4 linked regions of the Homo sapiens genome follow. The protein of the gene in region 2 interacts with the protein of the main gene of each other region in a pairwise test. Each region holds a gene or a part of one and is shown on either strand. Other genes may lie near its edges.

Region 1 (7,627 bases), on a different chromosome or scaffold from region 2:
CTCCTGACCTCAAATGTTCCACCTGCCTCCGCCTCCCAAAGTGCTGGGATTACAGATGTGAACCACTGCACCTGGCCCTAAGACTTTTTATCATCCACAGACAATTGTTGTCTTGTTTTGATCTTCTTTAGAAGGTAGTTTATAATCAGCCATAGGACTTTAACAGGTGCACTTAAATGCAGGTTTCTGATAACTTTGGAGATTGTGACATTAGAATAGAGGAAACAACTTTCAGAACTCTCATGGGGAGCTGAAATGTTCATAGATATCAAACAAAAGTTAACTGCATAAACTAAAGAAGACTAAAGCAATCTTTTTGCCTTTGCTTAAAACATTGCTGATCCTTTGTTTTATTTTTTAGAGTCAAGGCAACTTTTCTTTTCAGATATTTACAGCTTTTAATAATCGAGTAAAGTATACTCCTGTGAACAAAATTTGGAGTATATGCATCTCTCTACTTGATTTCTCCAGAATTTGGAAATTATTTGTGTGTATTCTTAATTTATGGCAATGCAGTTATTTGCATAAGGGTAATAAGAATCTGTTTTCTTTTGCAACAGGACACAATTGGAGAAATTGTTTATTTTATGAAGGGTTTGACTGGAATGGTGTGCTTTCCATTAAGGAATCAAACTTGACTTGTAAAGCCTATAAAAGCCACTTAGCGACCTGGGCTCATAACCTTGCCTACACAGTCCCTGTACAGGGTTTCTGACCTGTGGTAAGTAAAGAATGTCACCTTCTAAAAGGTCCAGGAGCCCCAAGTTATCTGGGGACCTCAAAAGGAGAGGAAGAATTTACCCAACTCAAAGGTATTTGAGGGCACAAACCCATGGCAGGGCTCAGCTTTAAAAAGTCTTATCCAAGATTCTTTCTATGGAACAGAGTTCCATCAAAGCCAATTTTAAAAGCCTACGTGAAAAATAATTATTCTTGCTGCACTTTATACAATCATCAGGCCAAGTATAATAAAGCACATTGGTCTTACCATAAAAATGGTCTTTCATAAAAATGGGAAACTGGAGAGAGAAAAATTATGTTTCAAGAACTATGATACACTTGTTATTAAATTCCAGTCTCATCAGTTGTCTTTAAGTTTGTTTCTGCAATTTAGGCTAACCCTGCTTAGTCCTGTGAACCAACCAGTGGCCTCTGACTGCTGCTCAGAAGAAACAAGAGGGATGGGTAATGTAAAAATCTGCATCAATATTCTAATTCTGGGCATGTACTGGAATCATCTAGCAACCTCATATCAGCGTGGTTCCAACAGTTCCTCAGTTCATGGAAAGCCTTCTAGTTTAGTTTACTTGGGATAATTTTACTTATTTTGCTTTATGGTTGTGGAATGTATAGCTGTTGTAATCTTTGTATAGGAATGGAGGACAAGCTTACTGAATGTTTCCTTAAACTGAACACTTATGAATCTTCCAGAGTATCACCTTTTGTCAGAACTCATGAGTTATGAATGGCCCTCAAGATACCAATGCTTTTTCTTCCCTTCCCTTCCCTTCCCTTCTTTTCTTTTCTTTCAGATGGAGTTTCATTCTTTCAGGCTGGAGTGCAATGGCACAGTCTTGGCTCACTGCAACCTCCGCCTCCCAGGTTCAAGAGATTCTCCTGCCTCAGCCTCCTGAGTAGCTAGGGTTACAGGCACCCGCCACCACATCTGGCTATTTTTTTTGTATTTTTTAGTAGAGACAGTGTTGCACCATGTTGGCCAGGCTGGTCTGAACTCCTGACCTCAGGTGATCCGCCTGCCTCAGCCTCCCAAAGTGTTGGGATTACAGGCATGAGCCATCCCGCCTGGCCCATACCAACACTTTCCAACTGAGCTCCTCTCTACCACGAATATGAGAGATTCTAAGAGTTAGGCAAAAATATCATCGCCCCTATTCATCCTGAAGAACTTACAGAAGATGGACCTTCGTCCCTCTGCAACCCTTAGGATTAGTGCTTCTCTTATAAAAGGAAGGGGGGAAATGTCAGAGGCACGTGAACCAGAGCAAGTCTATTTTGAACAAGAGCTGAGTAAAATGAGAATGAGACTTACTGGGCTGCATTCCCAGATGGTTAAAGCATTCTAAGTTACAGAATGAGATAGGAGGTTGCCATAAGATACAGGTCATGGCCGGGCATGGTGGCTCATGCCATGACAGTTTATAAATGCCATGACAATGACAGGAAGTTACCCTATATGGTCTAAAAAGGGGAGGCATGAATAATCCACCTCTTGTTTAGCATATCATCAAGAAACAACCATAAACATGGGCAACCAGCAGCCCTCGGGGCTGCTCTGTCTATGGAGTAGCCATTGTTTTATTCCTTTACTTTCCTAATAAACTTGCTTTCACTTTACTCTATGGACTCGCCCTGAATTCTTTTTTTCTTTTTTTTGAGGCGGAGTCTCGTTCTGTCACCCAGGCTGGAGTGCAGTGGTGCGATCTCGGCTCACTGCAACCTCCACCTCCCGGGTTCATGCCATTCTCCTGCCTCAGCCTCCCAAGTAGCTGGGACTACAGGCGCCCACCACCATGCCCGGCTAATTTTTTTGTATTTTTAATGGAGACGGGGTTTCACCATGTTAGCCAGGATGGTCTCAATCTCCTGACTTTGTGATCCCGCCTTGGCCTCCCAAAGTGCTAGGATTACAGGCATGAGCCGCCGCACTCAGCCTGAATTATTTCTAGTGTGAGATCCAAGAACCCTCTCTTGGGATCTGGATTCAGACCCCTTTCCTGTAACAAGATTAGGCACCAGGAGAAACTGACACACATGGATGATATAACAGATGCCTAAATGGATCCTATGGGGGAACTGGAGCTGGAACAGCCCTTTAGAGTTGTCGCAAAGTGAGGCAAAGAGGCTAGACTTTTATATCCCTCCATCAATCAGTGTTTGACATGGGCCCCATAGGAGGGCATGTAACCTTCGGTGAGGCATCTTTCTGACTTGAAGGGCATTGCCCAATGAGGGAGGTAGCTATGTGGTATCAGCAGCTGGTATTTCCTACATGTAGCGAATGGGCATATTGGCTCCCAAGGGGGAATCTGGGTGGAGCACTATAGTATCCATTAAACCTAGTAAAGAAATATTATTTCTTTACTAGTCACACAGATGTGCCCAGGACAGTGGTAGAGCCCACAGGGTTACATAAATCATAATGGTAGCCCTCAAGAACTTCATAAACTGTATATGGTATTTTAAAAAGTTGCATATTGTCTGTTTCCACCTACTAGAACATAAGCTCTAGGAGGGCAGAGACTATGTTTTGTTCACCACTGTTTCTCCAGTGTCTAGACGTAGATTCTTTGAATGCATTTAATTGGAGCCTTGAGATATGAAGAAGTAGGATGCGGTTACTTCATGCAGAGCAAGAGTGGCATGCACCCAGAGAAGGCCAGGTGGAGCTCAGCATGAGTGTGAAGGCCTCATGTCAAGCCATGTCAGGGGACACAAAGATGGAGTATTCTCTAACCTATGTGACACTCGGCATAAGGGAAGTACAAGCACTCAATATGTGAGTTTCATTCCCACAGTCTGTGGTCTTTAGCCCAGTCTTTCCAGATGCCTATTGAGTTCTTCAAGCATCCAAATGGTTTGGGGTAAGGCTTCAGGTTCTAAATGAGAGGCTTTGTGGGTTACCAGCTGGAGAGTCAGAAAATCTGGATTTGAATTCACTCAGCCATGAAATAATTGTGTGATCTTGGGCCGGGCACGGTGGCTCACGCTTGTAATCCCAGCACTTTGGGAGGCCAAGGAAGGTGAATCACTAGAGGTCAGGAGTTTGAGACCAGCCTGGCCAACATGGTGAAACCCCGTCTTTTTTTTTTTTTTTTTTTTTGAGACAAAGTCTCGCTCTGTTGCCAGGCTGGAGTGCAGTGGCACAATCTCGGCTCACTGCAACCTCCGCCTCCCTGGTTCAAGTGATTCCCCTGCCTCAGCCTCCCGAGTAGCTGGGACTACAGGCGTGCACCACCACGCTAATTTTTTTGTATTTTAGTAGAGATGGAGTTTCACCATGTTGGCCAGGATAGTCTTGATCTCCTGACCTCGTGATCTGCCTGCCTCGGCCTCCCGAGAAACCAAGTCTTTACTAAAAAATATCAAAATTAGCCAGGTGTGATGGACCTGTAGTCCCATCTACTTGGGAGGCTGAGGCAGGAGAATTGCTTGAACCTGGGAGGTGGAGGTTGCAGTAAGCTGAGATGGTGCCACTGCACTCCAGCCTGGGGGACAGAGCAAGACTCTCTCTCAGAAAAAAAAAAAAAAAAAGTTTGATCTTGGGGAGTTCTAAGGCCCACTAGCCTCATCTGTAGAATGGAAGCAATAGTACTACTTTGCAGAGCTGACTTCAGGACCAAGAGATCTAATGTCTATGAAGCGGGGTACTTCCTTCTATTTGTCAGGATGGGGGAGGCTAGTCCTGTGATGACTGGGAATGAAGGGTAAAAGAGACAGAGGTTGGGTAAACTCCAGGCTCTGTGTTCATAGCCTGCTCCCAGACATTCTCTTGTTATCTCTCTGTTTCCTAGCCTACACACGTGCACAGACACGTAGCTGCTGTTCAGGAACTGAGCTAATGGTTTTAAAGTCTGTTCCTTATCTTTGCTGGAGGCAGGCAGTAGCTGTGCAGTGACAGTGTGCCTATGCAGACAGAGGGAGCAGTGAATAGCAATAGGGTGTTTCCACCATGGTCTTCACTCAGGCCCCGGCTGAAATCATGGGCCACCTCCGGATACGCAGCCTCCTGGCCCGGCAGTGCCTGGCAGAGTTTCTGGGTGTGTTTGTACTCATGGTAGGTAGGATCACTGCGGGAAGGAAAGAAGGGGGTTGGGCAAAAGTTCCTGGCTCCTTCTGTTGTCCTTATCTCTTTCTCTTGGTGTCCCCCTTCCTCTCAACTCCCTATCACTTTTCGTTTTTATCCTCTCGTCTCTCCTAATCTCCTTTCCTCTCCTACTTCATCATTTTTATTCTTGTCATTTTTATTCTTTCTTTAATAACAAGTGTATCATAGTTCTTGAAACATAATTTTTCTCTCTTCAGTTTCCCATTTTTATGAAAGACCATTTTCATGGTAAGACCAATGTGCTTTATTATACTTGGCCTGATGATTGTATAAAGTGCAGCAAGAATAATTATTTTTCACATAGGCTTTTAAAATTGGCTTTGATGGAACTCTTCCATAGAAAGAATCTTAGATAAGACTTTTTAAAGCTGAGCCCTGCCATGGGTTTGTACCCTCAAATGCCTATGAGTTGGGTAAATTCTTTTCTTTTTTCCCACATTCTTTCCCTTTCTTCTTCCTCCACTTTCCCCATTTCTTTTCCCTTCCCTCCTTCTGCTTTTCTCCTTCCCTTGCTTGTCTTCTGTGCTCATTCATCTCCTTGGCTGCTCCCCTGGCCTTCCCAACCTTTCTCCCTGTTGGTCTCCTGGGCTCCCTGTTCCTCATCTCTCCTCTTCTCAGCAGCTCCTCACCCAAGGAGCTGTGGCCCAGGCTGTCACCAGTGGAGAAACCAAAGGCAACTTCTTCACCATGTTTCTGGCTGGCTCTCTGGCCGTTACGATAGCCATCTACGTGGGTGGTAACGTCTCAGGTGAGGAGGGTGGGGTCTGGTCATCAGAGCACGTGGGATGTGCATGCCAGTTTGTCTGTCTGGTGATGGTGGAAACGCAAATCCTTCTGTGACTCGTGGACATTATCCCCTTGAACAGTGTCCCAGACTGAAATAAGCCTTTGGCCCCACCAGCCCCTCCTCTTTCTGTATCTCTCCATCCTGCTTCCTCACACTAATGCTTGGCTCACCTAGACAGAAATCAATGGCAGGGCACGAAGGGCAGCTGCTATCCTCTTGTATCCCCCACCTGAAGTCCTCTGGGGGCTCATCTCCACTCAGGACCTCTCCTGTTTGTACCCCAGATACACACTGCATCGGTGTGCTTGGGTGGAGCCTTGAGACATAGTGTGTTGCTGTGGAAAAAGCAGACAGACCTAGGTTCCAACTTTGGATTCACAGTGTCTTCTTCTTTTTTTTTTTTTTTTTTCTTTTTTTTTGAGATGGAGTTTCACTCTGTTGCCCAGGCTGGAGAGCAGTGGTGTGATGTCTGTTCACTGCAACCTCTGCCCCTGGGTTCACGCGATTCTCCTGCCTCAGCATCCCGAATAGCTGATTTTACAGGCACCTGCTACCACGCCTGGCTAATATTTGTGTTTTTAGTGGAAACGGGGTTTCACCATGTTGGCCAGGCTGGTCTGGAATTCCTGACCTCAAGTGATCCACTGCCTCGGCCTCCCAAAGTGCTGGGATTACAGGCGTGAGCCACTGTGCCTGGCCCACAGTGTGACTTTGCTAAGTCACTTAACATCTGTAACATCTGGAGCCTCAATTTCCTAAGCTGTGTGATGAGAATTACACTATCTGCCTTAAGAGCTATAGGAAGGAGCAGTAGTGTTGTCTGGTGACAATGCCTGGCAGTGACACTTAATAGATGCTCTTTTTCTTTCCTTGATACTTGAAGGGGCCCACCTGAATCCAGCCTTCTCCCTGGCCATGTGCATCGTTGGACGCCTCCCCTGGGTCAAGCTCCCCATTTACATCTTGGTGCAGTTGCTGTCTGCTTTCTGTGCTTCGGGAGCCACCTATGTTCTCTACCATGGTGACAGAGGGAACAGAGGGAGCTGTGCCTTGAGAGCACCTGTGGGTGGGCAGGGGTGCCTCAGAATGGTTTTGGATGAATGAGCAAAGAGGGAAATCCTGGGTGTTCCCTTCCTCCACAGATGCCCTACAGAACTATACAGGTGGGAACCTGACAGTGACTGGCCCCAAGGAGACAGCCTCCATTTTTGCCACCTATCCTGCCCCCTATCTGTCCCTGAACAATGGCTTCCTGGATCAGGTAAGTGTGAGGGGGAGACCTGGGGACACTACTTTGGTCCTGTTCCTCGGCACCCCAGCCTATTGTTCAGTCTCTGGGTGGAGTGTGGGTTGGGTCTATCTTGGCACTCCCCACCATCCCCAACTGCCTGTGTTGCACAAAGCCAGATGACATGGAATATTTGGATGAGAGAGGGCAGATGGAGCACCTGGCAGCTGACAGGGAACCCTCTGCCTCTGTTGACTCCAAGGTTCTGGGCACTGGGATGCTGATTGTGGGGCTCTTGGCCATCCTGGACAGACGGAACAAGGGAGTCCCTGCGGGTCTGGAGCCTGTGGTGGTGGGGATGCTGATCCTGGCCCTCGGGTTATCCATGGGTGCCAACTGCGGGATTCCACTCAACCCTGCCCGGGACCTGGGCCCACGTCTCTTCACCTACGTGGCTGGCTGGGGTCCTGAAGTCTTCAGGTGGGAGACAGACTCTCCTGGTGCTGGCCTCCACTCACCTTCCTCTGCTAAGGGCTCTGTCCCTGGGTCCACAGCACTCTGCCTTTAAAATAGCTCTCTTGGCTTCTTAGGACAGTGTTCTTTCTCCAAGTCATATTCTCCCCCTTTCTCCCTTGCTTCCCTCCCAACTTTTCACTGAAACAGTAAGATTTAGAGGTTGTGTTCTTAGGCATGCCACATTACTTCCATGCACATTAGTGACTTCATCAGCAAAATTAATATATTCAGATAATTCCCTAAGGCAAGA
Region 2 (8,093 bases):
GCAGAAATCTGGGCTGGTCTTGAAAAGTAAAAAGGTAGAGACACAGAAAGCGCATTTCAGGAGAGTAATAAAAACAAATCTCACTAACCTCTAAACTTATTTTTCTTCACAGAACTCATAATTACCTGAAGTGTTATTAATCTGATTGTCTAACAGAATGTTCCTTTCATAATAGCAGGGATTTACCTTGCTCCCTTTCTGCTGTATTCCCAGTTTTTACAACCCAGCAGGCAGTCAAATACTTGTTGAATAAGGAAATGTATACTAAGCTGAATTAAACCTGAAGGCAGTTTTTTATTGGTAAATGTAAGTTACAGTGAAAATTACTTACTTACCAATATACCAGAGGGGCCAGTATGTCACATTGTAGTATGAACTAATCAATTTTCCAGTCCTGAAAAAAAATTAGAAAGGCTTTCCAGTGAACCTAAAAACACCAAAAATCAAAAACAAACACAAAAACCTGTGGAACCAGCCACTGGCTTCTTAAAGTTTCACTTTTTTTGGACTGATTCACTTACATTTCAGTATATATCATTCCAGCCATAGATACATTTAGGAGTCCCCAGGCTAAGACCACTTTCCTAGCCTCTGTTTCTTTTCTCATCTTGATGGTTCTGTCAATAAGGGAAGCACTAGGGTGTGCCTCCCCCTGCATCTATGAAAAAACAAAAAGCACAGGAATTAACCAGAAGAAACTATTGCTCCATTTAAAAACCAAATTTTGCATCCCTTATAAAGGTAACTGAAACCGCATATACCTTCTCTCATCTTTAAAATGTTTTATCAAAACTTCTTCCATTTTAATATCAGTATATGAAAAGGGAACCCAAAATTATATGTAACTTAATTGGCATCACAGTGTAATCAACAGAGAAGTGGCTGGTTATTTATCTATTTATTTGTTTTGAGACGGAGTCTTGCTGTCTCCCAGGCTAGAATGCAGTGGCGCGATCTCGACTCACTGCAACCTCCGCCTCCCGGGTTCAAGCGATTCTCCTGCCTCAGACTCCCGAGTAGCTGGGATTACAGACGCCCGCCACCGCGTCCGACTGATTTTTGTATTTTTAGTAGAGACGGGATTTCAACATTTTGGCCAGGCTGGTCTCGAACTCCTGACCTTGTGATCCACCCGCCTCGGCCTCCCAAAGTGTTGGGATTACAGGCGTGAGCCACCGCGCCCAGCCGTGGCTGGTTATTTAAGAACAATTTAATACTTCCAATACATAAAAATGTCTTATTTTGTAATTTAAGGGTTATGTCTAGAAATACTTTGTATTTTGTCTTTGGGGTATGTTACACGGACTAGGCAAAAGGCTAACTTCAGAAACTCAAAATGTCAAGTTTTGGGAGACTATATTCCATATCTGCTGTAAGTCATAAAGACTGTTGTACATCCTCATGCAGACGCCATTACTATCTCAACAACTCTGCACTTGGACAGCTGTACTCCAGGGCTCTCCCTTTTGTGTGTGGATAAAGGACAAGGATCCAAGTTTTAGAAGGGCACGTACTTATGATGGGGTGGTGAGCGGAGTAAGAGGGAGAGAGGGGAAAACGTGCATTGTTTTGGTCCACATTTGGGATTTATAATTCCTCCTTTCTTCAGCTAGGCTCAACTCTTACAGACCGTGCAAAACTTGTTCCAGCGACAAGCAGTCGTATCCCACAGAGGACAGAGCAATAGCTTTCGCGCCACTCAGCCCCCGCGTCCCAATTTCCCAGTCCAGAGCTTCCCTCCCCGGCTCCTGGGCACGAACTTCAGCAACCCTATTGCTTCTTTCTTCCCTTCCCCTAGAGAGGCGGAACGCCTAGCCACATCCCCCTTGGCTGAACCCAGGACAGATCAGCAGGCGCGGAACTCCCACAACCCGCGTAGATTCCAAGACAGGAAGCACAAACACGACCCCGAAAACGCACCATGTCCTCTGGCCGGAAAACGCAGGCTCGCGCCACTCTCTCTGGGCATGCGCAAAGCCAAGCTCAAGCGGGAGGCCACCGGCAAGCGGCTCTAAAGTTACCGGAAGAACTAGGTAGTCTCTTCTCGCGAGAAAGGGAGGGGTCGCAGGCCCAGGCGCTCGGAGCGTTACCAGGGAAACAGGTCTCGGTTTTGCGGCTCCCACTCAGCTGCGGGAGAAAGCTAAGCAGCAAAATTCAGACCAGGCTCTGAACCCGCAGTAAAAAGTAATAATTGTAACAAGCTGAATTTTGTATCTATTAATATAATTTTAGCTTCCCTAGGGCATTTATGGACTCACATGTGTAAACTGATTAAGTAGGGCGGCTCACCGTAGGATAGAGTGGCGTGATAAAGTGGCCAGACACCATCAGTGACAAAGCATTTCTTTCCCCTGTGTTAAAGTATCTATGTCAAGAGTCCTGACCCCATGTAATTTTTTTTTTGGTAGAGACAGGGTTTCGCCATGTTGGCCAGTCTGGTCTCGATTTCCTAACCTCAAGGGATCCGCCCGCCTCAGCCTCCCAAACGCCTGCTGGCCTCCCACCGCCTTTTGGGATTACAGGCGTGGCCCACCGCGCCCGGCCTAAATTCTTAATCTGTTTAATAGGGTGCAGCAATAACAAGCACACCCAAAATTTGTTTTATTGAAGTTGCTAGTGGTTTTGAGGTTAAAAATAATAACACATTTTCGTATGTATTTTTTGGAAGAGCTGCTCATCCTGAGGAAAAGGTTGAGCTTTGTTTTATTTAGCACAAATACCTACAAGTGTGCCGCTGAGCCAGGCGCACGGATATAGAAAATAAGACCTTCCTGGTTATTACCCAGAGGAGCTCAACCCCAGCGGAGGCCCACAGATGCATTTCGGTGGCAGGTGAGGTGGATGCAGTGCTCCCCAAGGAGGCGCATCCAGCCCAGCCCCAGCTCTCGCGAGCTTCCTGGAGGAGATGACGCGTTAGAGTCCACAGCCAGAAACCCAGGGCCTGGGGACTTGTTCTGAAGTGTGCCTCCTAATAAAAACATTAAGCCATGCCACAGTAAGCTAGTGGATTACATCATGTATGTCCAATGGCCAAAGTTTTTCCTAAAATGATCCTAAGATTAATACCACGTGGTATTGTATATTAATGAAAATCGGCAGGTATGCTGTGCTCTTGAAGAGCTGTTAAGTTTTATCATTTTTAGATTGCTTTAGCAGCAATGTTGTTTTGCTCTAGTTTTAGATTTAGAGATGAACTAACTGGAAAATTGTTCAAAGTGAAAGGGCTCAAGGTGCAATCAAAATTAGAATACCGGCCGGGCGCGGTGGCTCACGCCTGTAATCCCAACACTTTGGGAGGCCGAGGCGGGCGGATCACGAGGTCAGGAGATGGAGACCAGCCTGGCCAAGACGCTGAAACCCTGTCTCTACTAAAAAGACAAAAAATTAGTAGGGCGTGGTGGCATGCGCCTGTAATCCCAATTACTCTGGAGGCTGAGGCAGGAGAATCACTTGAGCCTGGGAAGCCGAGGTTGCGGTGAGCCAAGATGGTGCCACTGCATTCCAGTCTGGGCGACAGAGTGAGACCCTGCTAAAAAAAAAAAAAAAAAAAATTAGAATACCGGTTTCCCACCCCCTCCATATGTGACTCTTTCCTAAGAAGAAATTGTATGCATTTGATGTAGTTCATAGTAGTTCATAACGGGCACATCTGTGTTTTTCCCTCTTAATCTATAAGCTGTTGTGCATTTATTCAAGGCTTAAAAAAGAACACCACTGACCAAATGACAGCATTATGTATTAGGGCTGCCATAACGCAATATCACAGACAGGTGGCTTAAACAACAGAAATTATTTTTTTCATAATTTTGGAGGCTGGAAGTCTAAGATCAAATTGTCAGCAGGGTTGGTTTCTCCTGAGGCGGGTCTCCTTGCAGACGGCCCCCTTGTATTGTGACCTTGATTTCTGTGCTCGTGAATCCTTGCTGTCTTCTTGTAAGGATACCAATTGTATTGGATTAGGGCCCTTATGACCTCATTTAACTTTAATTACCTCCTTAAAGGCCCTGTCTCCAAATAGAGTCACACTGGAGGTGAGGGCTTCAACATATGAATTTTAGGGAACACAGTTTGATCGGTAATACATTAGAACTGTCTATGATAATTTGCAATGGCATGATACATATAAAAGAGACTGAATTAAAATGAGTGGATACATTAAACACTTAGACGTGAAGATAGGAAAATATAGCATATACAAGTTTTAGGAAAAAAAATTAAGGCAGAATGCACCATATTGAGGTATGGGGGAAAATAACATAAACATTCAGAGGAGTAATTTGAATAACCTTCCACAAACTTAGAAGTCCAAGAAGCATTTGTCAGTTCCTAGAACAGTTGCTTAAGTATGTGTCATAATAGGTTGCCAAGGAAATTGTCATACATCATAGAGGGAGTGAAGTAGTTCCCAGTCATCTTTATCCCTTTAAGCATGGTTTATTTTCTGAGCAAGGAGTCATCATGGGAGACCTTTTTTCCTTATTTTGGGAGGTAGATCCTCCCCCAATACCTGTAAATTGTGCCATTCCAAATCAGGATTATGAATGCTGGAAGGATGACTCTTGTGGAACCATAGGGAGCTTCCTGCTTTGGTATTTTGTTATCGTATTTGTCCTGATGTTCTTCTCTAGGGCTTCTGTCTGGGTAGGATATCTTTTTTTCATTTTAAATAATATGTTTACTGTACACTAGGAAAATTTCCATAAAATACATTTACTATACTTTGATGAAACTACTTTTAAAAGTTGTTTAGTTTTAAAAATAATGCAATCTTATTCTGGAGAATCCAGGAATATGGAAAAGGATGAAGAGGAAAATATAAAGCTACAGTTATCCTCTTTCCCAGAGATAACCACTGTTAACATTTTGGAGTATGTTCTTCCAGTTTGGTTTTTTTCTCTGCCTTTCCCAATATATCTCTCTCCATTTCTCTATCTTTGATCTTACATGGTTGGCATTATATTGCATATATTTTCATATCCTGCTTTTTAAGCTTAATAATATATCAGAAATACTTCTTTAAATTATATTCACTCAGCAGCACTTTTAATGACTGCATAATTTTCTATATTTTGATTGCACCAAAAAATTGTGCAAGTTTGAAACATTCAGATTGTTTACAGTTTATCCATCTGCTATGTAATGCTGGCATAAACCTCCCTGCTGGTTAATGACTTCCAAATCCCTTTTCTAGCCATGTGATTCTAATCAAAGATATGAAAGTTGTCATATTGATAGGATACATGCTGTAGGATTTTGGGGTTTTTAGAATGAAGCAATACGCTTTCTGCACAGAATAAGCAGAACTAGACTAAACAGAACTAAAGTCACCACTAAAATGCCATCGTCTTAAGAATGAGATATCCCACTTTATCAGGACTGTGATGCTTCCAACATATTATGAGTAACCAAGCTCTTTTTTTTTTTTCTTGAGATGGAGTCTTGCTCTGTCACCCAGGCTGGAGTGAAGTGGTGCAATCTTGGCTCACTACAACCTCCGCCTCCCGGATTCAAGTGACTCTCCTGCCTCAGCCTCCCTTGTAGCTGGGACCACAGGCGCAAGCCACCACGCTCTGCTAACTTCTGTATTTTTAGTACAGATGGGGTTTCACCATGTTGGCCAGGCTGGTCTCAAACTCCTGACCTCAAGTAGTCTGCCCGCTTTGGCCTCCCAAAGTGCTGGGATTACAGGCATGAGCCACCGCGCCCAGCCGTAACCAAGCTCTTATAATTTGCTGACATGATATCCTTGCTGGCCATTAATACCAGGCTGATGATTAAGAAAACCACCATCATTTAGCATTATAGCCATAGGCCTGGGCTGGCAGTGGTAAGACTTAATGCTCTATGAGCTCGGATGGGGTGGAGAAGGTTTGTTATGTCCATGCCAGCTGGATTCCATTCTAATCAAAGACTCTTTGATAACCACCACCTCCTGGTGAAGAACTTTCATCTAAAGTCTAAATGCTTCTTAAGGTAAATACTTTGCCAAAAGGAGATTTAGAATAATGATAGCTTATATGTGTCTTAGACTCCCTAGCTAAGTATATTGAATTTGGCCTGGCAAGCAAAGCTACTTTAGAAAATTACCAAAAAAATTTCATCATGAATTAAGAGGTCTAAGCTATTTTTTTTATTTTTATTTTTTGAGACGGAGTCTCGCCCTGTTGCCCAGGCTGGAGTGCAATGGCACGATCTTGGCTCACTGCAACCTCAGCCTCCTGGGTTCCAGTGATTCTCCTGCCTCAGCCTCCTGAGTAGCTGGGATTATAGGCGTGCATCTCCACGCGCAGCTAATTTTTGTATTTTTAGTAGAGATGGAGTTTCACCATGTTGGCCAGGCTGGTGTCGAACTCCTGACCTCGTGATCCACCCGCCTCGGCCTCCCAAAGTGCTGGCATTACAGGCGTGAGCCACCACGCCTGGCCCAGTCTAAGCTATTTTTTCTGCTCCCTTGCTTGCATCAGCTCTTGGGAGTCATACAGCCTTGAGCTTCCAGGACCTCAAGAGAGCATGTGGTCCAGCCTTCTGTTTGTAGGCAAGTAAGTTATCATTATCCCTCCCCCACTCATTTTTTTATTGATAAGCCCCAAGTAAATTAAGTGACTTGTCCAATGTCACAAAAGTGTTAGTGACAGAAGGGGAATATACCCAGATTTCCTGTCAAATTATTTGTTTGCTTCAAAGCATAGTTTGAAATGTCCACTTAGATCTACTCAGTCCTGATTAAAACCTTAATTATTTTAGAGGTTTCGTTTTTCACTTTGTACCCTTGTGGCAGCTACAATCAGCTAGACTGCTTCTTCTGAAGGGTCCCAGATTTGAAATCTGAGAACAATATGAGAGCTAGTAAAGGAGGATGGAATTTTTCCTTCACTTTGAACTTCTTCATTTTCTCTGCTAAACTATGAGGCTTTATTTACAAACCTTGAAGTAATGGTAAAAGCACGATGGAAATGTGGTGGTAATTATCCTCCAACATGAAGCACGCTGATTTCCTCTGAATTTGCCACTTTTTAAAGTGGCATTTACCCTTTTGCTTTCAGACTATAAATACTATATTTAGTTTATATTTTTATTTTGTGTTTATTCAGATTGCTAGTGCTGGTATTTTTCTGGACAATGGTAATCCAAACACCTTATTTTGCTTATGTGGAAACTGAGCTTAAGAGGTGTTAAGTGGCTTGGAAAAATCAAGAGTTGTTAGTGGCAGAAAGAGAGCCACGGCCCACATTTTCTACTCTGCCCCTCAGGGCAGGCACTCCTGCTGTTTTCACTCACTGAGTCACAAAGACAGTTAATAAAATGCTTTTCGTAACCACAGTTCATATGATCCCACTTAGTTTAATGCAAAATCTTTCTTTTGATTTTGTGGCTATGTTTTGATTTGACATCAAATGTGAGAGCTTTCTGTGGAAATGATATAAGCCTAATAAGTGTTTTTAAATACCTTCTCCTGTCTATTACAAAAGTACACATTATATAGAAAATGTGGAAATTATAGGGCAGAAGACAAAATAAAATAAAAATCACTCCAGATTATGTAGAAATAACCAACTACTGTTAACTTTTAGGTTTATAAACTTCCAATTATTTTGATTTTCTTTACATATATTAAATTTATTTTTTTCCTTTTCTATAACCTAAGTGATACATATTAAATTTAAAATATTTAAGCCTCTTCCAAAAGCATTTTTTATAAAGTGGTATCTTTTTTTTTTTTTTTTTGAGACAGAGTCTCGCTGTCACCCAAGCTGGAGTGCAGTGGTGCAATCTCTGCTCACTGCAAGCTCCGCCTCTCAGGTTCACACCATTCTCCTGCCTCAGCCTCCTGAGTAGCTGGGACTACAGGCACCCACCACCACACCCGGCTAATTTTTTTTGTATTTTAAGTAGAGACAGGGTTTCACCGTGTTAGCCAGGATGGTCTCGATCTCCTGACCTTGTGATCTGCCCGCCTCAGCCTCCCAAAGTGCTGGGATTACAGGCATGAGCCACCGTGTCTGGCCAGAAAGTGGTATCTTAAAAGTGAACTCCGCTTTCAAGATTTTTGGAGAATGATTGCTGTAACCCAGAAAACAAAAAGGCACCTCATT
Region 3 (8,101 bases), on a different chromosome or scaffold from region 2:
TTATCTGACATTCTCTGGGTGAGCCCAGGCATCTCAAACTCAACATTTCTATAAGTGAATTTGTGATCTTTCTTCCCATTCCAATCTACTCCTTTTCCTGGGTTCCGCAAATGGCACCACCGACCTCTTAGCTACCAGGTCACGAACCTGAGTAACATCTTTGATACTCCCTCCTCTCTCATTTGCAACCCTTCGTCAACAAGTTCTGCCTGTTCCTCACCGTAAATATCTCTATCTCATCCTTCTCTGCTACTACATACTCAAATTTGAGCCTAAAGTAATCTCTAGCCCCAATGAGTATACAATAGCCTGCTAATTAGGCTCCTGACTTCTACTTTCACCCTGCTACAATATATTTTCCACCTCGTACACCAAAGAGCTCCTCCTAAAATACAAATCATAACAGGCCTCTGCTTAAAACCTCTCAATGATTCCCCAAGACCCTTAAGATAAAGAAAACTCTGTATTATTCCCATTTTTTGAAGGGGAGCCTAAGAATTAATTAGGTTAAGTGACTGGCTTAAGATAATTGAGCTAGGATGGTGGAGTTGGGATTGAAGCTTGCAGGGTCCCAAGTTCTTAATTATCATGCTATCTTCTTAACAAAGCTTTCAAATTCCTTCATGATCTGGCCTCAGTTTCTGCATTCCCATCTCTTACTACTCCCTTCACTTGATTTCTACACTCTAGCTCTAAAAAAATCATTTCAGTTCCTCAAAGGAACCAGGCTGTCTTCTTTTTTTTTTTTTTTTGACAGAGTCTCACTCTGTCACCCAGACTGGAGTGCAGTGGTACGATCTCAGCTCACTGCAACCTCCGCCTCCCGGGTTCAAGTGATTCTCCTGCCTCAGTCTCCCGAGTAGCTGGGACTACAGGTGTGTGCCACCATGCTTGGCTAATTTTTTAAGTTTTGTATTTTTAGTAGAGATGGGGTTTCACCGTGTTGGCCAGGCTGGTTTGTTTGTTTGTTTTTCTTTTGAGACAGGGTCTCGCTCAGCCACCCAGGCTGGAGTGCAGTGGTGCGATCTCAGCTCACTGCAACCACCATCTCCCCGGTTCGAGCCATTTTCCCATCTCAGCCTCCCAAGTAGCTGGGATTACAGGCACTTGCCATCATGCCCAGCTAATTTTTCTATTTTAGTAGAGACAGGGTGTCAACATATTGGCCAGGCTGGTGTTGAACTCCTGACCTCAGGTGATCTGCCCGCCTCGGGCTCCCAAAGTGCTAGAATTACAGGCATAAGCCACCGTGCCCAGCCAGGCTGGTCTTTAACTCCTGCCCCCAAGTGATCCGCCCACCTCAGCCTCCCAAAGTGCTGGGATTACAGGCATGAGCCACCGTGCCCAGTCTAACTGAATTTTTTTTTTTTTTGACACGGAGCTTGCTCTGTCACCCAGGCTGGAGTACAGTGGCGCAATCTCGGCTCACTGCAACCTCCACCTCCCGGGTTCAAGCAATTCTCCTGTCTCAACCTCCCGAGTAGCTGGGATTACAGGCATATGCCACCACGCCCAGCTAATTTTTGTATTTTTAGTAGAGACAGGATTTCATCATGTTGGCCAGGCTGGTCTCAAATTCCTGACCTCAGGAGATCCACCCGCCTAGGCCTACCAAAGTGCTGGGATTACAGGCGTGTGCCGCTGCGCCCAGCCTAGCTGGAGATTTTTAATAGAGGATCCTCTGTCCACAGCACTCCTTCCCCTCACCTTTTTCTTCTTTCCTTAAATAGCTAATTCCTACCTTCCAAGGGTGGCTCTATGAAGCCTTTGCTGACTCCTCCAACCTGGTTTAAGTGACTTCCTATGCCCTTTATGGTATCCTGTGTTACTACTACCATGATTATGATGCATTATAATTGCCTGCTAACTTACTGTCCAGGCCCGAGTTAGAAATGCATCCTTTTTCTTTTTTTTTTTTTGAGACGGAGTCTTGCTCTGTCGCCCAGGCTGGAGTGCAGTGGCGTGATCTCGGCTCACTGAAAGCTCTGCCTCCCGGGTTCACGCCATTCTCCTGCCTCAGCCTCCCGAGTAGCTGGGACTACAGGCGCCCGCCACCATGCCCGGCTAAATTCTTTTTTTTTTTTTTTTTTCAGTAGAGACGGGGTTTCACCGTGTTAGCCAGGATGGCCTCGATCTCCTGACCTCGTGATCCGCCCGCCTCGGCCTCCCAAAGTGCTGGGATTACAGGCGTGAGCCACCGCGCCCGGCAGAAATGCATCTCTTATTCACCACTGTACCTCTCTCTGGTAACCAGCATAATGCTAGGCATATAATAAGCACTAAATAAATATTTGTTGAATTAAGAGTCTTTAGCAAGAAAGCCAAGTGCCTTAAGCCTAGAGTATAGTTTCAGCCTGGAAAGGAGTAGCCAATAATGCCTAATGGACTCAAGTGGTCACAAGATGCCATCATTGAGAAGGGACGTTCAAAGATCACAGAACTGAACACATGGAAAAAGCTGAGATCCAGGAGGAGACCTGAGGTGTCCAAAGCCACAGAGAAAAGCAGCAGCAGCAGCAGTACAACAATTTTGGCTCAAATCTGACTTCTAAGCTGGTTTGCAGGCTGTAAGTTCAGTGCAGAAGGCCAATCTCTAGGGTATCCACCTCTGCCATGCGGGCAGATTAAGATCCGGTTTTCTGTAGAGCAGGCTTGGCGCTCAGGTAAGGGATATGGATGGGTTCGCAATTGACGAGTGAGTGGATACAGAGTCTGGTTTGGAGTTCCAGGTCTGAGATCCAGTTTGGGTCGCGGGTTCAGGTCTCCCTCCCTCCCCTCCCCTCCCCCTCGGCGCACTCACATGCCACCCTGTGAATGACCCAGAAGGTGATGCCCACCTCCGCCAGGCAGAGGCAGGCGGCCACCAGCAGCGTGTAGCGCGGCTCCCGCAGCAGCAGGCGCCGCTCTTGCCAGGCGCGCTGCAGCCATTGCTTGCAGAGTCCCTCTGCCTGGGCCGCGGAACCGGACCGGCCGCGTTTCCGCAGCCCAGCCGCCATCTTAACGGTGCGCCGCTTGTGTGGGCCCACCACCCCCGGAAACCCGAACCTTCGACACTTAGGTTCCGCTTCCCGTGCCTGGCGTCCCACCAGGCTAAGCGCCGATCCGAGTAGCCAGTCTTCATTTACTCCACTAAAATGTAATTTTTCTGCATTTGTCTCCTCTGATGCACTCCACGCTCCATAGGAGCAGGGACAATGTCTTACTCCTCAGTTTATACCCAGCCCTGGGTACACAGGCGCTAATTTAGAACGAATGTCCAGAAAAGCAACATTCCTGCCTACCTCCCCCACAACCGCTGAAGCCAGCATTCTCCTTCGCCTGCGCTGGGAACATCTGTGTTCATGCTGTCTCTCCAGGAGGGCAAAGCCCCTGTTCGCGCCCCTCCTGCCTGCCCTTCGAGCCTTCCGGATGCTGAGAAAAATGAACCTTTCACTAATTTTCAGATTTCCTGATAAAAGTCATTCATATTGAAAATATGAGAGGACGCAGTGATGAGCCCACGTGAGTCTGACACCTTGAGTGCGGCCCTAGGAAATGACTTGGCAGTACAGCCGGAGGATTCAGGGTCTGGACGATAGTTTTCCCAGCCGGAGGATTCTTCGAAGAGCGCTTAGTAAAGGACGGAAGTTCCACGTGTTTGTGTTGAGCAACTGCAGGTGGTGGGCGGAGACACCAGCGCCCCGCCTTCTGCATCCTGCCTTCCGTATTGGCTGAAGGGCCGGCGGCTCTGGCTGCCCGGCGGTTGAGAGCATGGCCTCTCCAGGGGCAGGTAGGGCGCCTCCGGAGTTACCGGAGCGGAACTGCGGGTACCGCGAAGTCGAGTACTGGGATCAGCGCTACCAAGGCGCAGCCGATTCTGCCCCCTACGATTGGTTCGGGGACTTCTCCTCCTTCCGTGCCCTCCTAGAGCCGGAGCTGCGGCCCGAGGACCGTATCCTTGTGCTAGGTGGGTAATCCCGGCGCGGCCCCGCCAGGTAGAGCTGGCAGGACCGGCGCCGCATGGGCTTGGCCTGGTCCGCTTTCCTCCCGCCTGTCTATCCCTCTTGGAGGACGCCTGCGTTGGGACGCGAGATCCAGCTCCTTCAGAGTCCCGGCTGTATTTAGTCAAGGCTAACAGGAGTAAGAGATTGTTGGTCCCGGGGCCCTCTGGAGAAAGACAGTCCCTCAGAGTTTGAGCGTTGGGGGTACCCAAGACCCTGTCCGGACCCTCGGGAGGCAGGCAGCCTTGGGGACCGGATTGCTCAGAGGACCGAGATCAAGTCCTAGCGCTAATTGACTTGTAAAACTTAGGACAAGTCATGAACCCGTTCTGAGCTTTAGATTCAGTTCTAGAAATGGTACTGCGAGTTCACATCGGAGGCGGCACGCGCAGGCACCTCGAGAATAATGCCCAGCGCTTTTCTTTTTGCCCCTGGGCACTGGGAGCCAGAGTCACCTAGAGAGAGTCCTGTCTGAAACTTGGTCCTATGCCTTAGAGAGTGAGAACAGCACCCTCTAGGGGTGGAGGGGAGATTGCCGCCCAGGGTGATACGATTCCCCAAAGGGAGACGTGCTGGAGGAAAGGTAGGGCTCTGGGGTGTTCGGCTGACCTCTTGAGGTTCTCTCCTAGTGTCAGCCTTGGAGGCGCTAGTAAAGTTTGAATGAGCAACAGATTTTCTTCCAATTGTCGTTTTTACTTTGCTCTTTGTAAAAGCCTTTGTATGTTTAAGTGAAGTCTTTAATAAATAAAAAAGGTATATGTAATATATATGTAAGGTATAAATAACAAATCTAATGTGTGTGTCTATTCCACTCAGTTTGAGAAATAGAACATTACTAGGGATAGAAAAAAAAGTATAATTTAGTGGTTAATAACTTGGCTGGGCGCGGTGGCTCACGCCATTAATCCCAGCACTTTGGGAGGCCAAGGCGGGCGGATCACCTGAGGTCGGGAGTTCGAGATCAGCCTGACCAACATGGAGAAACCCCATCTCTACTAAAAATACAAAAAATTAGTCGGGTGTGGTGGCGCATGCCTATAATCCCAACTACTTGGGAGGCTGAGGCAGGAAAATCGCTTGAACCAGGGAGGCGGAGGTTGTGGTGAGCCAAGATCATGCCATTGCACTCCAGCCTGTGCAAGAAGAGCAAAACTCTGTCTCAAAAAAAAAAAAAAAAAAAGAAAAGAACTTGGACTCTGGGCTGGCCTCATGATTCATGCTCATAATCCCAGCACTTTGGGAGGCCAAGGTGGAAGGATCACTTGATCGCAGGAGCTCAAGACCAGCCTGGGCAACATAGTGAGATCCCATCTCTACAAAAAATTTAGGCCAGAGCAGTGGCTTATGCTTGTAATCACAACACTTTGGGAGACCAAGGCGGGTGGATCATTTGAGGTCAGGAGTTCAAGACAAGCCTGGCCAACATGGTGAAACCCCGTCTCTACTAAAAATACAAAAATCAGCCAGGTGTGGTGGCACGTGCCTGTAATCCCAGGTACTTGGGAGGCTGAGGCAGGAGAATCACTTGAGCCCAGGAGGTGGAGGTTGCAGTGAGCTGAGATTGCACCACTCCACTCCAGCCTGGGTGACAGAGTAAGACCCTGTCTCAAAAAAAAAAAAAATTAAAACTTAGCTGGGCATGGTGGCCTGTGCCCATAGTCCGAGTTACTCAAGAGGCTGAGGCAGGAGGATCGTTTGAGCCAGGAGATCCAGGCTGCAGTGAGCTGTGATGGCTCCAATGGGCTCCAGCCTAGGCGACAGAATGAGACCCTGTCTCAAAACAAAGCAAAACAAAAAACAAACAAACAAAAAACCACCTTGGACTCCAGAGGCAGTGAATTATGTTGGAATCTTGGCTCGGCTTATACTGGCTGTGTAATCCTGGACAAAATACTTGAATTTCTGTGCTTCCATTTTCTCAACCTTAAAAACATAAGCATATTTATTAATTGGGCTTTAAGTTGATTAAATGAGCATGAAGGATACCTAGAACAATGCCTGGCAAAATGAAAAGTATATTCAAGGTTCTCTGTGTGGTCCTCCTAAAACCCCTTCTCCCCACAAGTAAACACTTTCTTGAATCTGTGATTTTAAACCATTGCACTTATTTATAGATTTACCTTAGATCTGTTTTCTCAAGCTTTAGTGTGTATCAAAATTACCTGGGGAACTAGACTGCACTGTGAGATTCTAATTCCAGGGATGGTCTAATGTGGGTCTCAGGAATCTGTATGTTCAACAAGCTTCACAGCAGATTCTTATGCTGGTGATTGGCAGAGTAACACTGCCTTAAAATCTGCTTGACTGGTTTTTCACCAAACTGATGCTTTAAAAAAAATCTGCTTAACTGGGAACTATCCTTTTCTGGATAGGAGGGGCAAGAAGTCTAAAAATCAAAAGGGGAATTTCTAGAATCCCCAAGATGTAAGAACAGGACCCACAACTTGGGAAATACTCTACGTTACATTCCACCTCAACAGACTTAAGTTGAGTGCCTGATAAGAGCCAGAGAATGTGCTGGGCCCTTTCTAACTTACTTAATCCTTATGACAACCCCTGAAGACAAGTCAAAAGTACTAAGAGACTTACTCCAGGTTAGGGGTCTGTAAACTTTGTTTGAAAATGGCCAAACAAGTAAATTTTTTAGGCTTTGCAGGCTACACAGTCTCTTTTACAATGACTTGGTTCCGCTATTGTAGTGGAAAAGCAGCTACAGACAATACAAAAGTGAATGATGGCCGGGCAGGGTGGCTCACGCCTGTAATCCCACCACTTTGGGAGGCCGAGGCGGGCGGGTCACCTGAGGTCAGGAGTTCGAGAGCAGCCTGGCCAGCATGGTGAAACCCCGTCTCTACTAAAAACATAAAAATCAGCCAGGTGTGGTGGCAGGCACCTGTAATCCCAGCTACTCCAGAGGCTGAGGCAAGAGAATTAATTGCTTGAACCAGGGAGGCGGAGGTTGCAGTGAGCCAAGATTTCACCACTGCACTCCAGCCTGGGTGACAGGGTGAAACTCCATCTCAAAAAAAAAAAAAAAAAAAAAAAAAGTGAATGAGAATAGCCATGTTTCAATATAACTTTATCTAACAAAATAGGTGGCAAGCTGCATTTGGCAACCCCTGCACTCATTGTCTTAGATTGAGTTCCCCAGAAGCAAATCCTGAGATGAGGATTCATGTCCAAGTTACTTGTCAAGAATGTGCTCCCAGGAGAATTGGTAAGAGCTAGAGGGAACAGAGAAAGGGAAGAAGCAAAGTTTCCCTGAAGGTAGTTTCAGCCTGAAGAGTCACAGATGTACACCATTAGAAGCAAACACACACCAAAACCCAGGGATATAAAAATAAAAATCGGTAAAAAGACTCCCAGGGCATCTGGTCAGAACACTGACAGTGTCCACTACTGTCATGCAGCAAGGAAGTGGTAAAGTAAGGGTGCTTTGTGACACCACACAGATGGGAGTAGGGAGGCATCTGGAACTCTTAAAACTGGTAAAATGACTACATTGTGAATTATAGCCTAATGGTCATATGGATATAGCTAACAATGGAATGTCACGACTGAAGGTGAGTGGGCCTCTTGAAAACTGGGAGGCAGTTGAACACAGTGGTTTAAGAGCTCTGGCTCTGGAGCGATAGAGGCCTGGGTCCAAATTCTGGCTCTTCCACTGACTATGTGACCTTGAGAAAGTTTCTTACCACTTTCCTCAATTTTCCCATGTAGAAAATGGGAATAGTAATAATAGTGTCTTTTTTTTTTTTTTTTTTACATGGAATCTCGTTCTGTTGTCCAGGCTGGAGTGCAGTGGTGCAATCTCAGCTCACTGCAAACTCCACCTCCTGGGTTCAAGCGATTCTCCTGCCTCAGCCTTCCGAGTAGCTGGGATTACAGGCGCCCACCACCACACCTGGCTAATTTTTGTATTTTTAGTAGAGACGGGGTTTCACCATGTTGGCCAGGCTGGTCTCCAATTCCTGACCTCAAGTGATCTGCCCGCCTCGGCCTCCCGAAGTGCTGGGATTACAGACATGAGCCACTGTGCCCAGCCAATAGTATCCTTTATATGGCTCTAACATGAAAGTAAACTGAAATAATTCTTATAAATGCTTAACATAGTACTTGGT
Region 4 (7,668 bases), on a different chromosome or scaffold from region 2:
TAGGGAATAGGATAGCTGGGGCAAGCCTTAGAATTCTGATTTGGGAAGGCTGGTAGACCCCAGGCCATAACAAGGCCACGGGAGGACTCTTGAGAAATGATAACAGGCCTCACCTCACTCACCTTCCCCTTGCCTCACACAGCCCACCACATGCAGCCCCCTCAGTCCTCACCCATGGCCTTGGTGACTGGCAGTGTCCCCATATACAGTGCCTCGTACTTCTGAGCAGCTTGGCTTACCGCATCCAGCAGCTCCACTGAAATATACACACCAAGTTGGCCTGGAAGCTCTTTCAATTACCCTTTTCCCCACCCTTCTCAATGGGCCAGGACTCAGGTCAGAGCTGGTGCTGGTAGAAGAAATGGCTCATAGATGCTCCTCCAACTAGTGGCTTGGGATCCCTGAGACCAGACATCTCAGAAATTTATCCACAGAAGTATTAAATAACCAGAAATCGCCCCCCCACAAAGCAGCACCAAAGCACCCCAATGCAGCAATGCAGGTCTCCCCTCCCCATACCTTGCCGTGGCAGGTCTTCAGGAGAGATGGGGTCTGGGGAGCAGCAAGAGGCATCACCACTGACCTCTACTCGCTCTGACAAGATCTAAAACACAATGAAGCCAGCATGACCCACAGGGAGAGAGGGGAATTAGGGTAAAAGGGCCAATACCACCCCAACTACCTTGGAAGCTTCAGACCCAACCCCTTACCCACATTCCCTGCCCCACCCCTGACACTTACCTGGGCACAAAGCCCATGTAGGGCACTGGCAATGGCCTTGGCAGGGACATCACAGCAAAACACATGGCACTTGAGCATACAGCTATCTTTGTCACTTGCCACAAAAGCGAAGTCCCTAGCAGGGGCAGAGATGGGGCTGGGGTAGAAGCTGGTTAGAGGCAGGAGCCTGCAGGAGGCTGGAAAGTCAGGCTAGGGATATAGCAGGGATGGAGTAGGGACATCAGGGATGGGGCTCAGGATACCTGGTTTTCACTCACCTGTCACTGTTCCGGAAGCATGTGGGAGCACAGAAGGGAATCAGCCCAGCCTCTCGGACTCTCCCCAAACTGTCCCTGCTGAGCTGGGCCCACCCTCCCCAACCAGGGCTGGACCAGGCAGGGGAAGCAGTCCTGGGTCCACATCAGAGGATCTGTGTCCAGGGGTTCAAGTACTGGGGATCAGCATCAGTGGGGATCACAGCCTGCAGCCGGGAGGGAGAAGTAGCTCTTGCTTGGGGGATGTAGGCATCCTCACCGGCCCTTGGAGCTCCCCACGCCCCACACACGGATGTGCACCAGAGGCTGGCAGTGGATCAGACTGTGGTCCAGGGGATTCACTAGGCTCATGGCATCCTTCTTCAGGATCATCAGCATGTTCTGGCCCTGCCAAGGACAGAGGTCAGCCCAGAGCTCAGATAAAGGTCATTGCCATGAGAAATAGGAAATTCAGGGACAGCTACCTCTGCTGGGCCCTGGGCCCAAACCATTAAAGGGCCCAGCCAACTCACCTCACCCCAGGCACCATCTGGAGGCTGGCTCCGGCTGCGGGTCTGGGCCAGCTGCTGGATACAGTTATTGACTGCAATACTGCTCTTCCCCGGTGCCAGGTCCTCTTCAGGTACCTCTACCCAGCCCAGAGAGCGGACTGCAAAGCACTGACAGGTTGGGGGAAGGGACAGGAATTAATAAGGATGGAGTAGGGTGGCAGGTGCCACAATACATACTCCCTGTCTTCACCCTTGATCACCTCTGTTCAGTCCAATCCCACCCTTGTCTTTCCCTTGGGACCTCCCAATGCCCTCAGGCCCAAGTCACTACCTTAGCCCCTGGCTCCATGCTCTGGATGTAGGATTCCCCACCATACCAGGACAGAGAGTTACTGAAACAGAGCAGAGCTGTTAAGAGGACCACATTTCCTACAGTAGGGACACTGGTGAGGCCTAGACAACTTGATAAGCACAGGATGAGGGGCAAGACCCAGAATATAGCACCAGAAATATAAAACCAGAGCAGGGTAGAGCCCAGGACATATTAACGTAACATAAAGTGTGACTCAGAATTTGAGGGAAAATTCAGGACATAGGACCCAGACACAGGACATAGAATAAAAGTCACAAGGCTAGGTGCAGTGGTGGCTCACGCCTGTAATCCCAACACTTTGGGAGGCTGAGACGGGTGGATCATGAGGTCAGGATATCGAGACCATCCTGGCCAACATGGTGAAACCCCATATCTACTAAAAATACAAACATTAGCTGGGCATGGTGGCATGTGCCTGTAGTTTCAGCTACTCAGGAGGCTGAGGCAGGAGAATGACTTGAACCTGGGAGGCGGAGGTTGCAGTGAGCCAAGATCGTGCCACTGCACTCCAGCCTGGATGACAGAGTGAGACTCCATCTCAAAAAATAAAAAATAAAAGTCACAAAATAGAACAGGGTCCAATATGTGGACCAGAACCCCAAAGTGGGACAAGAGACCCTAGAACAGAGGACTTAATGGCCAAGGTCTAGAACATGATAGGTTAGGACCAAGAATATGAAAAACATGTAGCTACAAACAAGAGCTTAGAACAAGGGATAAAACTCAAAATACTGACAGTTAAGAACCTGGGACAGAGCCAAGAACGTAACAGAACCCAAAACATGTGACAGAATCCAGAACCTGGGCTGGAAAGCAGACCATGGGTCCAGCTGCATTTTTGAACACCATGGAACCCCAAGCCTTTCATTTTGCCTGGGCCACCCGTTACCTCCGGTCCAGTGAACTCTCCAGGCTGGAGAAGGATCTCCCTTTGGGGGGCCGCAGTCCCCAGATCCCCTCCGTTCCCTGTAGAGTGGGAGTTAGTCAGTTTAACAGCAGACCTAGGTCCACACATGGGCTCAGACCTCCTCCTCACACTCTACCTACCGTGCCTGGGTCCTCTGCATCTCCTAGTTCCCAGGTTGGGCGCTGCCACTGGGTGCTACCGCTGGGTACATGCCAGTAGTAAGTACCTGCAGCATCGTGGATCTTCCTCCAGCCAGGAGGCAGGCCAGCCTCCACCTCCAGACTGTGGTCCCCCCACAAGTCATCTACAGGAACACCGGATTAGAGAGGAGGGAGCATATGATTTGTGAGTTCAGAATAACATGCTGTCATAATCCCCTCTCCATCCCCAAAATGGGTCAGTTCTTAGGCTGAAGATCCAGGCTCCTCAATCTTGAAGACATCACATGTAAAGACCGGGTTCATTCGCCCCCTGGTCCCTACACAGAGAGGTATCCCCCACCGTCTTTGAGCCCCAGAGTAGCCTTTCGGATTCCCTCGTCCTCCCTCAGCTCCTGGTCTTCCCACCGGGCCCCTCCGTGCACACCATCGCAGTTGACCAGAATGATGGCCAGCATGTAATCCTTGCCCAGCATAACCCCGGCTGCTCCCCGCCAGCCTCTGCCGGCCCGCACTCTCAGCCCAGCGCGACCTCTGGAGCTACTGCGCCTGCAAGCCCAGCCTCTCTGCGCCGCAGGCTGCGGGGCCAGCTGGCGCCGCACAAATACGGGGCGGGACACGGGGCGGGACACGGGCCGGTCCCGGGGGAGGGCCTGAGCCGCACAGCCCGCCCAGGGGTGGTGCGTGTAAACGGGCGTCTGGATCCCCGAATGGTTGCGTGTTTCCGTGTGTGGGTCCGGGGGAGGCCCACGAACGCCAGCGAAACCGCTGACACCACCGCCCAACTATGAACTCATCAGGCGCCTGAAGACCGACACGCCGAACATGCGCCGCGCGCACTCGCGCACGAGTGAGATCATCGCGCCCCGGTCGTGAGTGCGCTCACACGCAGCCTGAGACTCGACGGGAGGGGGTCACGTGGAAGTATCTGAGAGAGGCGTACTTGGCCACTAGGAAAGCACCTCCCCCTTTCCAAAAATGCTCCGGAAGTGCCTTCGCCCTCCGTAAAGATGGCCGGGGCAGTCGGCACGAGGGAGGCGGGGATGCGCCTGCGCAACAAGTTCGGCGGGGAAGATGGCGGATGACAAGGTGAGTGGCCGTGGGGGTGATCTGCAGCCGGGCGTGGTCTTCACTCTCCTTGACCTTTTTAGTTCCGGGGAGAAGCGACTCTGGAGCGGCTCAGGAGTGAGGATGTCCCTTGTTTCTTCTGCGGCTCCTGTCAACTGCCTCAACAGTGTGGAGTGGTGTGGGGAGAGCATTCGGCGAGGCGGGAGGAGCCGTGGATCCCCCAGATGTCCCCTCCTGGGAACCATCACGAACCCGTTACTAGCACAGACTCAAAAACATTCACCCTTAAACACTCCTCACTTTACCCCATTCCCTAGCTCCCGAAATTTTCTTCCCAGTGACACGATGTTTCCAATCACACGGACACTCACACCACCCTCATTCAAACACTCCTTTGCATACATTCTGAATTTCATACTTATATGCGATCAAAATCACTCAGTCCATTTACTTACACACTTGCCGACAGTCTTTTTTGTCATTCTCAGTCACATCCAGTCACTCACATTCAGTTTGGGATGTCCTTGGGAAGAAAGAGGTAAAGCCCATCCAGGAACCAAGACAATAAAATTGTCCAGGAAACTGCCTCGGTCCATTACTCACCATTGGTCTAGAAGCTCAGCATTACCCACACATTTACTAAATGTCAGGCACTAGAACATAGTAGCCAAGACAGACTGGTCACGACTTTCAAGGAGCTCATAATGGAGTCAGTAGTGGTTTCCTGATGGACCTAATTAAAGGTCCCTAGCTGTCCCTCCTGCCTTTCCTACATACTGCTTGCTATATAAAATTCTTGTCAAGGTTGATGTAAGTTACTGGTTCAGATCCCATCTGTCAGTCCCTTCCTGGCCCTCATTTGAATTCTGTGCTTTTCAATGCTTGTCTTTCTTTGCCACTGCCATCTCAGGAAGCTTTTATAGGAAAAGGTCTTTCTGGCTCACCCCATCCCCTCCCAATTCCCAGCTTCTGATGGAATTGAGCAAGGGGTGGGGCTTAGTCAGACTGCTGGAGCCAGCCTCTCGCTTGTCCTAGGATTCTCTGCCTAAGCTTAAGGACCTGGCATTTCTCAAGAACCAGCTGGAAAGCCTGCAGCGGCGTGTAGAAGACGAAGTCAACAGTGGAGTGGGCCAGGTAAGGACTGTCCCACCCCACCCCTGCCTTAGGCTTTATTGCCCAACATGCTCTTGAGAGTGTTAAATGGATGGTAGAGATTTCTTCAGCAAGTGATTATTGAGGGCCTATTCTCAGTCACCCTAAGGACAATTTTTCTGAATGGCACATGAACTAATATCTTAAGTAGTGGTTAAGTAGGTGAAGAGGGGAGGAAAGAACATTCCAGGCAGAACAGCATATGTAAAGGCCTTGTGGTAGGAAGTAGCATTATAAACATGAGGGGTGAAAGGAGGTCCATTTGGCTACAGTAGTTGGGGAGCATGCTAGGAAATGAGGCTGGAGAAACCGGCAGGGCTAGGGGCATCTCTGACCTTGTGTGGCGGTGGAGTTCTATGGTTGGAGCTTTCTGACCCCAGGGTTCTGAGATTGTGTGATCAGAACTGCTTGGTTCTTTTTCTGGCCCCAGAACCTTGGGAAAAATCTGGAGAAAATACCACGGTTGTCCAGGGTGAGGAGGAGCTGGTGGTGGAATGCTCTAATCCCAGCTTGAGTAGCCCCTGGACAGTCAGGAAGGAGCCTAGCTAAGTTTCCTTCTGCATTTTTCTCTGCAGGATGGCTCGCTGTTGTCCTCCCCGTTCCTCAAGGGATTCCTGGCTGGCTATGTGGTGGCCAAACTGAGGGCATCAGCAGTATTGGGCTTTGCTGTGGGCACCTGCACTGGCATCTATGCGGCTCAGGCATATGCTGTGCCCAACGTGGAGAAGACATTAAGGGACTATTTGCAGTTGCTACGCAAGGGGCCCGACTAGCTCTAGGTGCCATGGAAGAGGCAGGATGAGCAGCTCAGCCTTCAGGTGGAGACACTTTATCTGGATTCCCCAGCTGTCATCCATTTGCTATCTCCAACTTTCCTGCCACCTTCATCCTTGCCTCCCTTCCTGCAGATTGTGGACAGTAGTTCCTCAGCCTGCACCCTGGATTCCTTCTTCCCCTTCCTAGCTCCATGGGACTCGCCCCAAGACTGTGGCTTCAAGGACCACCAGCCCCTTACTCTTCAAGCCCTGACTGTGGAGTTGGTAGATGCCTCTGATCCTCAGTATTCTCTCTGGCAATGTTCCACGGCTTCTCCTTCCTGGGAGCTGGCTCCATAACTTGATTTTCCCCAAACGTGTTGCAATCCCTGCTGCCCCTTAGCCACCCAGGGTCTTGTGTGGGTATGAGTGTAGAGGATGGGGGTATGCCAGGCCTGGGCCGTCCCAGGCAGGCCCGCTGGACCCTGATGCTACTCCTATCCACTGCCATGTACGGTGCCCATGCCCCATTGCTGGCACTGTGCCATGTGGACGGCCGAGTGCCCTTCCGGCCCTCCTCAGCCGTGCTGCTGACTGAGCTGACCAAGCTACTGTTATGCGCCTTCTCCCTTCTGGTAGGCTGGCAAGCATGGCCCCAGGGGCCCCCACCCTGGCGCCAGGCTGCTCCCTTCGCACTATCAGCCCTGCTCTATGGCGCTAACAACAACCTGGTGATCTATCTTCAGCGTTACATGGACCCCAGCACCTACCAGGTGCTGAGTAATCTCAAGATTGGAAGCACAGCTGTGCTCTACTGCCTCTGCCTCCGGCACCGCCTCTCTGTGCGTCAGGGGTTAGCGCTGCTGCTGCTGATGGCTGCGGGAGCCTGCTATGCAGCAGGGGGCCTTCAAGTTCCCGGGAACACCCTTCCCAGTCCCCCTCCAGCAGCTGCTGCCAGCCCCATGCCCCTGCATATCACTCCGCTAGGCCTGCTGCTCCTCATTCTGTACTGCCTCATCTCAGGCTTGTCGTCAGTGTACACAGAGCTGCTCATGAAGCGACAGCGGCTGCCCCTGGCACTTCAGAACCTCTTCCTCTACACTTTTGGTGTGCTTCTGAATCTAGGTCTGCATGCTGGCGGCGGCTCTGGCCCAGGCCTCCTGGAAGGTTTCTCAGGATGGGCAGCACTCGTGGTGCTGAGCCAGGCACTAAATGGACTGCTCATGTCTGCTGTCATGAAGCATGGCAGCAGCATCACACGCCTCTTTGTGGTGTCCTGCTCGCTGGTGGTCAACGCCGTGCTCTCAGCAGTCCTGCTACGGCTGCAGCTCACAGCCGCCTTCTTCCTGGCCACATTGCTCATTGGCCTGGCCATGCGCCTGTACTATGGCAGCCGCTAGTCCCTGACAACTTCCACCCTGATTCCGGACCCTGTAGATTGGGCGCCACCACCAGATCCCCCTCCCAGGCCTTCCTCCCTCTCCCATCAGCAGCCCTGTAACAAGTGCCTTGTGAGAAAAGCTGGAGAAGTGAGGGCAGCCAGGTTATTCTCTGGAGGTTGGTGGATGAAGGGGTACCCCTAGGAGATGTGAAGTGTGGGTTTGGTTAAGGAAATGCTTACCATCCCCCACCCCCAACCAAGTTCTTCCAGACTAAAGAATTAAGGTAACATCAATACCTAGGCCTGAGAAATAACCCCATCCTTGTTGGGCAGCTCCCTGCTTTGTCCTGCATGAACAGAGTTGATGAAAGTGGGGTGTGGGCAACAA

Evidence for each region.
Region 1: the proteins of SSMEM1 (region 2) and AQP10 interact in binary tests that used the Homo sapiens proteins (3 or more experiments, as listed by UniProt).
Region 3: the proteins of SSMEM1 (region 2) and ALG3 interact in binary tests that used the Homo sapiens proteins (3 or more experiments, as listed by UniProt).
Region 4: the proteins of SSMEM1 (region 2) and SLC35A4 interact in binary tests that used the Homo sapiens proteins (3 or more experiments, as listed by UniProt).

The regions. Positions count from the first base shown.
Region 1 is NC_000001.11:154,316,466-154,324,092, forward strand, and holds the start of AQP10 (aquaporin-10), read left to right. Parts: upstream 1-4,627; 5' UTR 4,628-4,690; coding exon 4,691-4,795; intron 4,796-5,464; coding exon of another isoform or gene 5,465-5,467; coding exon 5,468-5,594; intron 5,595-6,516; coding exon 6,517-6,654; intron 6,655-6,775; coding exon 6,776-6,894; intron 6,895-7,123; coding exon 7,124-7,341; intron 7,342-7,627. UniProt on the Homo sapiens protein: Aquaglyceroporins form homotetrameric transmembrane channels, with each monomer independently mediating glycerol and water transport across the plasma membrane along their osmotic gradient. Could also be permeable to urea.
Region 2 is NC_000007.14:130,203,453-130,211,545, forward strand, and holds the start of SSMEM1 (serine-rich single-pass membrane protein 1), read left to right. Parts: upstream 1-4,407; 5' UTR 4,408-4,458; coding exon 4,459-4,641; intron 4,642-5,834; exon of another isoform or gene 5,835-5,961; coding exon of another isoform or gene 5,962-5,973; intron 5,974-8,093. Other genes in the region: TMEM209 (transmembrane protein 209), read right to left, coding at 336-394, 522-658, 1,921-1,923.
Region 3 is NC_000003.12:184,245,945-184,254,045, forward strand, and holds the start of ALG3 (dol-P-Man:Man(5)GlcNAc(2)-PP-Dol alpha-1,3-mannosyltransferase), read right to left. Parts: upstream 3,019-8,101; 5' UTR 2,997-3,018; coding exon 2,801-2,996; intron 1-2,800. Other genes in the region: EEF1AKMT4-ECE2 readthrough transcript protein, read left to right, coding at 3,751-3,946; EEF1AKMT4 (EEF1A lysine methyltransferase 4), read left to right, coding at 3,751-3,946. UniProt on the Homo sapiens protein: Dol-P-Man:Man(5)GlcNAc(2)-PP-Dol alpha-1,3-mannosyltransferase that operates in the biosynthetic pathway of dolichol-linked oligosaccharides, the glycan precursors employed in protein asparagine (N)-glycosylation.
Region 4 is NC_000005.10:140,560,846-140,568,513, forward strand, and holds the start of SLC35A4 (probable UDP-sugar transporter protein SLC35A4), read left to right. Parts: upstream 1-3,982; 5' UTR 3,983-3,998; coding exon of another isoform or gene 3,999-4,013; intron 4,014-5,027; coding exon of another isoform or gene 5,028-5,126; intron 5,127-5,719; coding exon of another isoform or gene 5,720-5,917; 5' UTR 5,918-6,324; coding exon 6,325-7,299; 3' UTR 7,300-7,668. Other genes in the region: APBB3 (amyloid-beta A4 precursor protein-binding family B member 3), read right to left, coding at 173-256, 520-604, 742-877, 999-1,004, 1,255-1,382, 1,508-1,654, 1,818-1,878, 2,749-2,825 and 2 more; SLC35A4 upstream microprotein, read left to right, coding at 3,999-4,013, 5,028-5,126, 5,720-5,917. UniProt on the Homo sapiens protein: Mediates the transport of CDP-ribitol. Does not exhibit CMP-sialic acid, UDP-galactose and UDP-N-acetylglucosamine transport activity.